Linked DNA regions of Homo sapiens: region 1 is linked to region 2. The links come from fine-mapping of genetic effects on gene expression. A gene starts in region 2. The other region holds a variant in brackets. All regions are shown on one strand. Distances are from middle to middle. Region 1 overlaps PPFIA2 (PPFI scaffold protein A2). Region 2 holds the start of PPFIA2 (PPFI scaffold protein A2).

The links. PIP is the estimated chance that this variant, and not a neighbour inherited with it, causes the effect.
Region 1: its variant is the best candidate, but not a certain one, in a credible set for the expression of PPFIA2 in lung (TOPMed, PIP 0.64).

The regions. Positions count from the first base shown.
Region 1 is chr12:81,731,492-81,736,883 of GRCh38, reverse strand. The region is part of intron 3 of PPFIA2 (PPFI scaffold protein A2); the gene reads left to right. Among named protein-coding and RNA genes, the nearest start is that of PPFIA2, 25 kb to the left of the region's middle. The variant A/T (reference allele first, on the strand shown) is at 2,345.
Region 2 is chr12:81,756,070-81,761,461 of GRCh38, reverse strand. It overlaps PPFIA2 (PPFI scaffold protein A2), which reads left to right and starts at 2,112. Exons shown (of 33, transcript NM_003625.5): 1 at 2,112-2,182; 2 at 2,955-3,062. RefSeq lists an enhancer at 2,314-3,252.

The DNA.
Region 1 (5,392 bases), 25 kb after region 2:
GTAGTCCCAGCTGCTGGGGAGGCAGAGGCAAGAGAATCCCTTGAGTCCAGGAGTTTGAGGTTACAGTGAACTGATCACACCACTGCACTCCAACCTGGGTGACAGACAGAGACTTTGTCTAAAAAACAAAGAAAAGATAGCTTAAAATGATTTTCTTAAAATAAACATGTCCATTTCTATGACAAAATAAGCAGTTACCATTTTCAATTTTTTTTCTGGTGTACTCCTAGTCTTGTTATATATTCCTTTGAGTATTCTAGATGTCAGTAATTGTCCCAACGGTGTTGAAAAACTCTTACTTCCTCCGGCGTTTCCTCCTTCAAATGCATCCCCTTCACAGCTGCAGAGTTATCTGTTTAAAATACAAATCTGACTGTGCTACTGCCTTTATTAAAATCTGACTGTGTTACTGCCTTTATTAAAATGCGTCTATGTCCACAAATAAACCCAACAGAATGAATAAACCAATTCAGCAAGGTCACAGGATAAAAGATAAACATACATAAATAAATTGTACTTTGGTACAGTATCGAAGAATGATCAAAAATGAAGTTAAAACAACTCCATCTATAATAGCATCTAAAATAATGAAATACTTAAGAGTAAATTAAACAAAATACATGCAAGGCTTGTATAGTGAAGACTTTAAGAGAAATGTAAAAATATCTAAACAAATGTAGAGACATTCATGTTTTAAAATATTCAATATTATTAAGATGTCATATATGCCCAAATTTGTCTATAAATTCAACACAGTTCTATTAAAATGTCAGCAGCCTTTTATACAGGAAGGGATGAGGTGATTTTAATATTTATATAGAAAGACAAAGGACCAAGGATAATTAAAACAATCTTGAAAAACATTAACAAAATTGGAGAATTTAACATTTACTGATTTCAAAACTTACTCTAAAAGGACAGTAAACAGGTTAGTTTAAGGATAGACATATAGAGCAAGTATAATGATAGAGAGTACAAGAATAACCCCGTAGATTTATGGTCAATTGATTTTCAACAATTATACCAATTCAATGTGGAGAAGATAGTCTTTTCAACAAATTAGGCTAGGATGATTGGCTATTCAAATGCACAAAGACTAATTTAGAACCTTACCAAACATCATACACAAAAATTGACTCAAAGTGGCCCATAGACCAATATGTAAGAGCAAAACGATACACTCTGCAGAAGAAAATAATAGGAAAACATTGTTGAAACCTTGGATTAGGCAAATATTTCTTAAACATGGCACTAAAAGTACAATCCACAAAAAAAATTATAAATAGAACTTCATCAAAATAAAAAAAACTTATACTTCAAAATAGTAAGAAAATGAAAAATACTAAGATAACTAGGAGAAAATGCTTTCAAAACATATCTCTGTTAAAGGACATATATTCTGAATTTATAAAGAACTCTCACAAGTCAATAAGAAGAGGAAAACCCAATTAAAAAATGGGTAAACAATTTGCATAGACATTTCATCAGTGATGGTAAATAGATGTCAATAAGCAGATGAAGATATGCTCAATCTCTGTAGTCATTAGGAATTTCAAATTAAAACCACATTTCACACCATCTAGAATTTTTATAATCAAAAGATAATACCCAGAATTAGAGACATTGTGGTGAATTAAGAACTTTCATACATTGCTAATTGGCATGTAATATGGTACAACTACCATAAAAATAATCTAGTAGTTTATTTAATTAAAAAAATTTACTCCTAGAAATCTAACCAAGGGAAATGAAAACATATTTTCATGTATATCCTGTTCACAAATGTTCATAGCAGCATTATTCATAATAACAAATATCCCTCAGGTGGTAAAGAAAATATTGTGTATTCATGCAATGAAATGCTATTCAGCAATAAGTAACAAACTATCAGCACTACAACAAGAATGAAACTTTAAAAATCATCATGCTAAATGAAGGAAGCCCATCATAAAAGATTACATATTACATGATTCCTTATTCATGAAATACCCAGAAAAGTCAGAGCTATAAGATGGAAAGGAGATTAAAGTTTGCCTACGGCTGGAGGTGGGCATAGGAAGTGACAGCAAATGGGTAGGGATCTTTTTGGGAGACTTAAAAGTGGATTGTTGTGATGATTACACACCTCTATACATTTATTAAAATCATAGCATTCTACACTAAACACAAAGGAATTTTGTGATATGTAAATTATTTTTCAATTAAGATGTTAAAAAATAACTTTCCATGGCTCCCAATCACCTAGAGAAGTTTTCACAAGCTTGACTGAAAAGGAGAATTGCTCAAAGTGCTTGTTGACAATGACATCTTCTCTGGAAATTTTGATTTTATACTTTTAACAATC[A/T]CCTTAGGTAATTCATAGAATTACATTTGTAAAATGCTAATCTGGAAAATAAATGATTAAGCTTCTTATTATGTCTTCAAGCCTGACCTCTAATCTGCCTCTCTCCCCCTTTGTATTCTTCTATTCTGTCACATAACTTAAAATACAAGTCTAAACTGGTTATTAATGATGGCTTGCTTAGTGTGATTGTATGCATTTTTTTTCTGCAAATGCAATGTAATCTCTCAGAGCAAAGAGATTTTTTCCTTATATGTGCATATCTTCCCAAACTACAAACACAGTGCTGTGTGAGCCTTTATTTAGACTCAACAATTGTTAGGTGTTTGAAGAGGTTCACCTGGGGTTAGAGACAAACTCCAACTGTGAGCTCCACAGCACCTATCACTTTCACCACAGCATTCTCAGATTTGGGCACAATATGCACCCTGAAATAGGAAACAGTGGTAATATGAGACCATGATTATCTGGGACAGGTGCTGATTATCTTCTGCATTCCTGTGCTCATTGGTCTTACACATTTTCAGAAGACACAGCCCTCAAATCAGAAGTTTTAAATAAAATATGTGTGTAGCAGGCACGTTATCTAGTTTATGAGAATACAAAAGATAGACATGTAGGTTATCCTGGTGGCAATGTAACATGTAGGTTACAGGATAAAATGTTGCTTATCCTGATGGCTTATAGAAACAAAAAAAGATGATGAAAAATGCTTCTCCCTTTCAGGAATGCTTAGCTTATTTGAGGTGACTGATGATTAAACCAATATTTACACTTCTATGTGATAGAAATATGACAATGATAGAAGTATGACAGAAAATGAATAAGAGCAAAGAACTCAGTGTAGTAGAATAGGAAGAAGCATCTGTTGATCAATATATTCATTGCCTCTTTAAATATTTTGTTTTATCTTCATAAGAGTTGTAAAAGCAATCTCTTTAATTCCATTTTATATATAGATAAAATCTCAGAAAAGTATGTTTCCTATTCTCACATTACTGGTAAGTGTCAGAGACAAGATTTAAATTTAAGATTCCCTCATTTTATTTTATTATTTTTTATTGTGGTAAGAACACTTAACATGAGATCTACCCTCTTAACAAAATTTTAAGTGCACAATACAGTATTAACTATAGGCTCAATGGTGTACAGCAGATCTCTTGAACTTATTCATACTGCATAACTGAAAATTTACATCCATTGTACTTTTAAAACGCAATCTTCCTTAAAGCATTTAAGATTTTAGAGTCAAAGAAAGTCAAGAACAAGGATTAAACACTTGATGCGTACTAGTTGCTTTATATTTCTGGAGAAGTTATTTAACCTAAAACCTAAAAAGAGAGATATTCTTAAGAACTATGTCTCACACTTTAAAACTGGAATTTTATGTACTTTACCATCATAAACTTAACCATAATATATATATTTCTACTATATAGAGACAATAAAAGATTGTTGTATTAATTTATAAAATATTTCAGTAATAAATTTATCAAAAATACAAGGCCAGACGTAACTAAGAAAGTTGTTTGCTTTTTACTGGTCTGCTCTAAGTTAATTTTCAACACAGTTTATAATACCTATTTTGGTGATTTTCTACTTTGAATTACATATTGACTGTGTTTAATTTTGGGTCTGTTCTTGGAAGTTGTTTCCTTGTACTGCTTTTTTTGTGTGCTTTGTAGAAAATATTCAAGTTTCTGCATCTATAATTACTTAAAGTTCAATTTAGGTCGATGGTCTTTATCATCTTTTACACTAAGAGAAAGATGCTATTCTCAAAATTAGAAGCATACTATATGTAATTTTATACACTGCATTTTCACTTAACATATCATGAGCAATTATCTATGTCATTAATTTTTTATTTCCTCTTTTTCCTTCCTTGATATTATTTTGCTTTTTTGCTTTGGCTGTTGAAATGGGTTTTGTTGCCTTTTCTCTTCTGCAGTATATGTAAGAAATACACATTGTTTGTAACTAAACTAGTGGAACCTGTTGTGTGTGTGAGTGTTTTTTTTTTTTTTTTAAAAAAAAACATCATCCATATTTCTTTATTTGGTATAATCAGGAAAGTAATCATTCCATCTTCTGGTCCAACATATAAAGAGGAAGAATTGAATACTTCTCTGTCCTTGCTCTTTTCCCCACACTGGACTTTCCAATTTGTATTAACATAAAGTGTTATTTATTATTAAAAACTTTTATGCGGTATTTTTACTGCAAAATCCAGTCTAAAGTTGCATTCAGATTTGAAATTAAGCTATTAGCAATTATTTAAATGCTATTAATATGTTCAATTTGAATGATTCTATCATTCTTGTAGTCACCATTTGTCCATTTTTATATTTTACATTTGATTTCATCACTTTGCCTGAAGGAATGTATTTCTAAGTAAGCATTTTAAGAAAGATATTTGAGTGGTGATACATTTTCTGAGCCCTTACACATATGATATTTTCTAATTACTTTATATATTGTCACAGTCCATGTTATATTCACATGTGTTTCTCATATCATCCTGTGACATAGGCTTGAAGAATTAACTTTCATCTTTTCATCATGCTTTCTTTAATACAATTATTTAGAACTCCCCACCCACCCCTGCACTGCTGACTCTTTAGTGACTAGAATCAGAACCAGAATTGATAGCTCATGTTTAAGAGCTTGCTGAACTCCAGGCATAGTTTTAAGGACTTTACATATATAACAAACTTAATCTGAACCACCATTCTATGACTAGAGGTACTATTATTATTCCCCTTTTACAGATAAGGAAACTGACATAGAGGGATTAACTCACCTTCTCTAGTTTGCAAAGATAGTATATGGCAGAGTTCCAATTCTACCCAAGGTTGTCTGTTTTCTGAACCCTCACATTAACCAGCACTCTAAATTGATATACTCATATAATGATATATCACTTTTAATACTATTTCAACCTTATATATTTTTAATTAACTGAAGTGTCTTTAAAAGCAAATGTTTAGATTTTTATGGTGAGATATAAGCACAGTAAGGCTCTTTTGTGAAACTTGAGACAGAAAATGC
Region 2 (5,392 bases):
CACGTAATGAATCAGATGTAATGAATCAGAAACTCGAAGGATAGGGCCCAGCAATCTGTGTTGTAACAAGCCCTTCTGGAGTGTCTCTTGTATGCTAAATTTAAGGGCCTAAACTAGAGAAACTGGTGCAGGTGGTAACTCTTCTCATGTGAATCGGCTCACCTAATGCCTCATGCAAAATTGCTACTTTAAACAGTCTTTCTCAGTTTTAATATATTATTTACACTCTTTGCAGTGAAGTTAGCAGTGATAATGTCAAGTTTTTCAGCTGAAATTTACTATGAAGACTGTATCTTCTTAACAAAATATCCTTTAACTCGTGATATTTTTTTCTGCCTCCCATTATCAAAGTTTTTCTTTCTGCGATACCTACCATGGGTTAGCCTTTAACTATGCTGTGTCAACTGTATGTGGGGATTATACTTACAATTAAAACTTGTATTTGACATACGAATGGGACTCAAGGAAATCAAAACTCTTCTTGGAAACAGTAGGAACATCTGAGCCAGTAATTAACAAACGTTGATTGCCAAGGAAATTCAAACCAAGGTTTAATAAGGAAGGAATTCTTGTAAAAATAGACATAATAGCTATATGTAAAAATAAGAATATCTCTCATGTATAAGGAATTTTTATGTTTTGTGTAGAATTCTAGAGAGTGAAAGTTATGAGTACTGATATATGATTAGTATGTTGAAGCTATTACAATATGAAGTTTGTCTGAAAATAGACTAGGCTATCCTGTGAGGTGAAGAGTTTCCTGTAGTTAGGGGTATTTAAGCCACATCAAATTGTGGGTCGATTGGGTGGTCTAGACCCTTCCTCCTCAAGTGTAGTACCATCTGGGAGTCATTAGAAGGGTAGAATTTCAGGTTTCACCCCATTCCTGGTGAATCAGTATCTACAACTTAACAAGATCCATGGATGATCTGTATGCACATTATGTCTGAGAAATAGTGCTCCAGTTGACATCTAATGAATTTTCGTATTATTTTTATACTTCTTATAGGATTGTGTTGTGTTGTAAAATTTAAATAACAGTCTAGAATAGAAGTTGGGTAAATACATGAGCTTTACCCCACTTTCCATTGTAAAGTCGCTAACTGAATTAAATACTTCCCTCAGAAACAAAGATTGTTTCTTGGATATTGTAGTTAATTTTAAGTGAACAGTTATTTACATACTAGTTCTTTGTTAACTTTGGACTCTTGGCGTTACACAAAAGTAAAACACGTCTTTTGGCTTTCGTGTAGCACACTCAGAATATTTTCAGTAACCCCCAAAATATATTCAGTGTTTAATCCTCCAATTCCTTCATGCATGTCCTCTTCATTTTCACCAAACCCAGCAGGATTCGTGACTCTCCCTCACAGAAACGTTCCCTTTCTGCTCAGAGTAGGTACTGATTTTGTCTCCTGCTTCCTCAGTCTGTATGAATGGACAGCAGCAACGGAAAGAAAAGAGGGTAGGTAAAGGGAGGTGGAGATATAAGGGGGACTGGAGCGCGATGGAGAGACCAGACTCTGCTCAAAGCTAAAATTTACTCGGGCAGGGAATACTTAACATACAATTCCCATTACCAAAACAATATGAATGAAGAAGAACTGAAGAGGTAATGAGAAATGACAGATGCCGCCACACCCTAGATTGGCTCAGGTCCCTACAACCATGACTACCATGCCCTGGCCCAGTGGGAAGAAAGCTGCTTAAAGAAATGACAAGCACAGAAGACCGGGGAGCCAAAAGGTGCCCAAGTCCGTTCCCATCCCCACCAGCGCAGGCTGACACAAGCGAAGGCTGTAGAGCCCATTGTGTGAAAGAAGCCCAGGCGGGGAAGCGTGTGCCCCCTTCCCACTTTGCCCATCCCTGGCCCTCGCCTTCGCAGGGGGCACTGGGAGCAGAGCGAGCCTCGGCAGCCCGGGAGCGGCTCTGGGGGAGACGAGTGTATCCGCGGGCGCGTGTGCGTGAGGAGGAGAGCAAAGACGTGATTACTTCAGAATTTATTTAAGGGCCGGTGGAAACCACTGCAGCAGCTTCCAGGGGAAGCCCTTGTTCCAGAGGAAGAGGAGGTGGTGGCTGCCAAGGAGGAGGAGGGGAGGAGACGGAGGAGGAGGAGTAGCAGCCACCGCACGAGGCAAGTGAGGAGAGAAGATGCTGTAGCGTCCTCACCGGCTGCCAGCAGGTTGGTTCTTCCGGCCAATTGAAGCAAGCAAAGAGGCTTGCAGAAAGGCCGGGAGGAGAAAAATGGGTGTGTGTGCTGTGGCGGCGGGGGGGCGGCGGGGGGGAGGGAAGGGGGGCCGGGGGACGGCGTGGGGTGATGTTTGCCTTTCCAGAGAAAAAGCGCCTCCTTTAAGTGAAACGAGACACGGGAGCGCGCGGAAACAGGCTGGGGGCCAGGAGGAGACCTGTCCTGCTTTTTGCATCCCTAGGGACTCGTTTTCCTTTAGGTTTCTAACTCCCAGGGTTAGCCTTAAACTCCAGAGGGGCTCCAGGAGGGGAGACTGGGTGGAGAACTTCTCTCCCAGATACTTCTCACGCCTTTTCTCCAAGCTTTCTTTTGGAGGGACGCCCCACACACCCCGGGTGGCCCGGGCGCGGAGGGGGAGCGGCGCCGCGTGGTTAAGTTTCTGAAAGTCAAACCCAGTCCCCGGTCTCCGGTCTCCGCCCCGGGGCTCCAGCTGCACGCGGGGAGCTGCGGCTGTTCTGGCAAAGGGGCCGCGGCTGCTTTAAGAGCCGCCTCCCCCTCTCCTCCTTTGACAATGGTCTGAACCGAGCTTTGCTTCCCAAAGCAAAATTTGTAATATGCCATTTTTCCGATGGACGCTTCTCCTTTTGGCTGCTGACGGAGCCACGGGAAGATGCCGAGCTCCTGCCACGCCACCGGGCCGGGGCACGTTCCGGGAGGGCGCCGGGGCACGCGTGTGTCTGAGCTGCCTTTCTCCTCCCGTTGCTAGGGAAATGGTCCAGGAGTGCTGGGTGTGAGCCTCCCTTCTCCTCAAGCCGGAGACTGCGGTTGTCATTGATCAATTGAAGAAGCAAGGACCCGAAATCACAGACATTAGGTACAGAAGCTGTCTTTGAGTTTTACTGTCTCCTTTCGCTGTATTTTTTGACCACCTCCCCGGCCCCACCCCGCCCCCAGGGAAGATGAGATGCAAATTCCTCCTTGTTGATTACCGTTAGGTGCCTTTTGCTTTCACCTCATCCTCTCCATCTCCTATCTCTCTACCTCCTGCCTACTTGGCTGTGTCCTGTTGGGCAGGATGAACAATTTTAGTGTGGAAATGATGAAGTCAACTTCTTCAAGGTGGTGGGGGGTGTGGCTGAGAGATAACTGTCCAGTAGTGTGGGTTGAGCTGGCTCTGGCTGTCCGTAAATGCACTAGGGTAAAGAAAGTGTAAAATGTGTCCATTAAAGGTGATAATCATATTTCCCGAGGACAGAGGCTTTCAAAGAGTTAAATAGGAGGGAGAATATTCATGTAATGTAATCAGACAATGGCTAGGATTTCTCTCACTGAATTACTCCTTGTAGGTTAACTGAGGTGGAGCTGGGATGGTTCTTAAGACTAAATGTTTTCAGAAGAAACTCACTATGGATAATAATTACATTCTTACCTCTAGTAGGGCCGAATTCCTAGTGATATGATTAAATAAAGTCATTTGTTGACAGAAAAAAGAAAAAAAGCTTTTTGTAGCACTCTCATATCTGAAGAGGTACTGCTTGGATGGCATATATTGTTAAGGAACACATTGGATCTTGAAAGCCCTTGAGTGAGGACTCCAGTGGGCATTCAAACTTTTATTTTGAAATCTGAGAAATTTAAAAGACAGTCAAGGCTATGTGCTAAGAATAAAGGAGTTATTTTCCTGATATAAAATTCTTCCGGCTAAATTTAAGCACTGGGATAATTAAGCCAATCAGATTTATTATTACTTTTTTTCTTTCTCAACAAAATTAACAATGTCTCTGACTAGGTTTCAAAACCTTCAGTAATTTAATGAGGAAAGCATCAATATCTAGATGAAGATAACATAATTTATATATCAAATTGACTTTGAGGGGGGAATGATGAAAAAGCAAATATCAAGGCAAATTGTTAAAATGCCCTTTCTGGCTTTTCAGAAATTATGTGATGAATGCAGTTTTTAGTATTGATACTGATTATAAAAGTTAAAAGTGATGTATCTGGGTGAAACGCACTAGACATTGAATGACCATAGCCTTCCGGACTGTGCAAGCTGCTTCAGATGTCATCCATTTTTTAAAAGGGTGTTTAACTCTTATATTGAATATATATCTTTAATTGCTTTTAATACTTAAAATGTGCAAAATGTGCATTTAAGAAATGTTATACTGCATTTTAAGGATTAATCAAATATTTTGTAATTTATGTTAGAATCTGAATTCTAATGAAAGAAACTAAGCTAGTTCATGAAAGTGGCCTTATTTTTTTGTAGACTATTTTTTTCTAATTTTGATAAGAAGACTTTGGATTTACTCATTTGGGTTGACTGCAAGGTATAAGCAGCATATATTCATCTTATTTCCTAAGTAAATTTTGCATAATTTGATTTTTATAAATTGGATTTGAAGAGTTCAAAAGTATCTACTAGAATTAAACCTTTACAGCAGCAGAATGAGTCGTAAAGGTAAAATATTGTTTCTACAAAGATTAATGTTGATCACTTTATAATAGAAATTAATACTTACATTTGTAATTGCCCTTTATATGTTTTGCTGTGTGTTCTCAGTCAGGTAACCTATTATATATTTTCTTTTTTTTCCTCTAAGCATAGATTATTGGCCCTCTTTCATGAAAGAGAGAACTAAAGTTTTAACATGTAAAGTAACTTGTCCTGGTTCACCTGCCTTAGGAGTGGAATCAAATCAAGTTCTTTTGAGTGTAGATTTAATAGACTTTCTAAGTCCCTAAGCCACTTTTCATCATAGCATCTTTTGACTAAATCGAAGACTACCTTTAATGTTGATTTAAGACCCTAAAGTTTGTGAATGTTTATATCCCATGGTAACAATGAGGGATTGTTAGGATATTATTTTCAGGTGAAAATTATATTGGGGTATTCACTGCTGTTATGCTTTGCCTTGGAATTTAAAGTTGTTCTGAGTGATTCAGGGTGGAAAGGGATTAATAACTTTCATTCAAGAAGGACGTAATTTAAAATATAGATTTAAGAATTTAAATCTATAGGTAACCCTAACGTTGTGAGTGTTTGGGCACAAATTGTCATGATGCTATGATTTGCTCTCCCAGTACTTTGTTTTAACCTTAAATGTCAAAAGTAAACATATTGGCTCCTGGTAATCATTTCTCAGAATGACATAGCGGCTCAATGTGTAGGTTTCATGCATGGCCTGCTAACTAATCGTT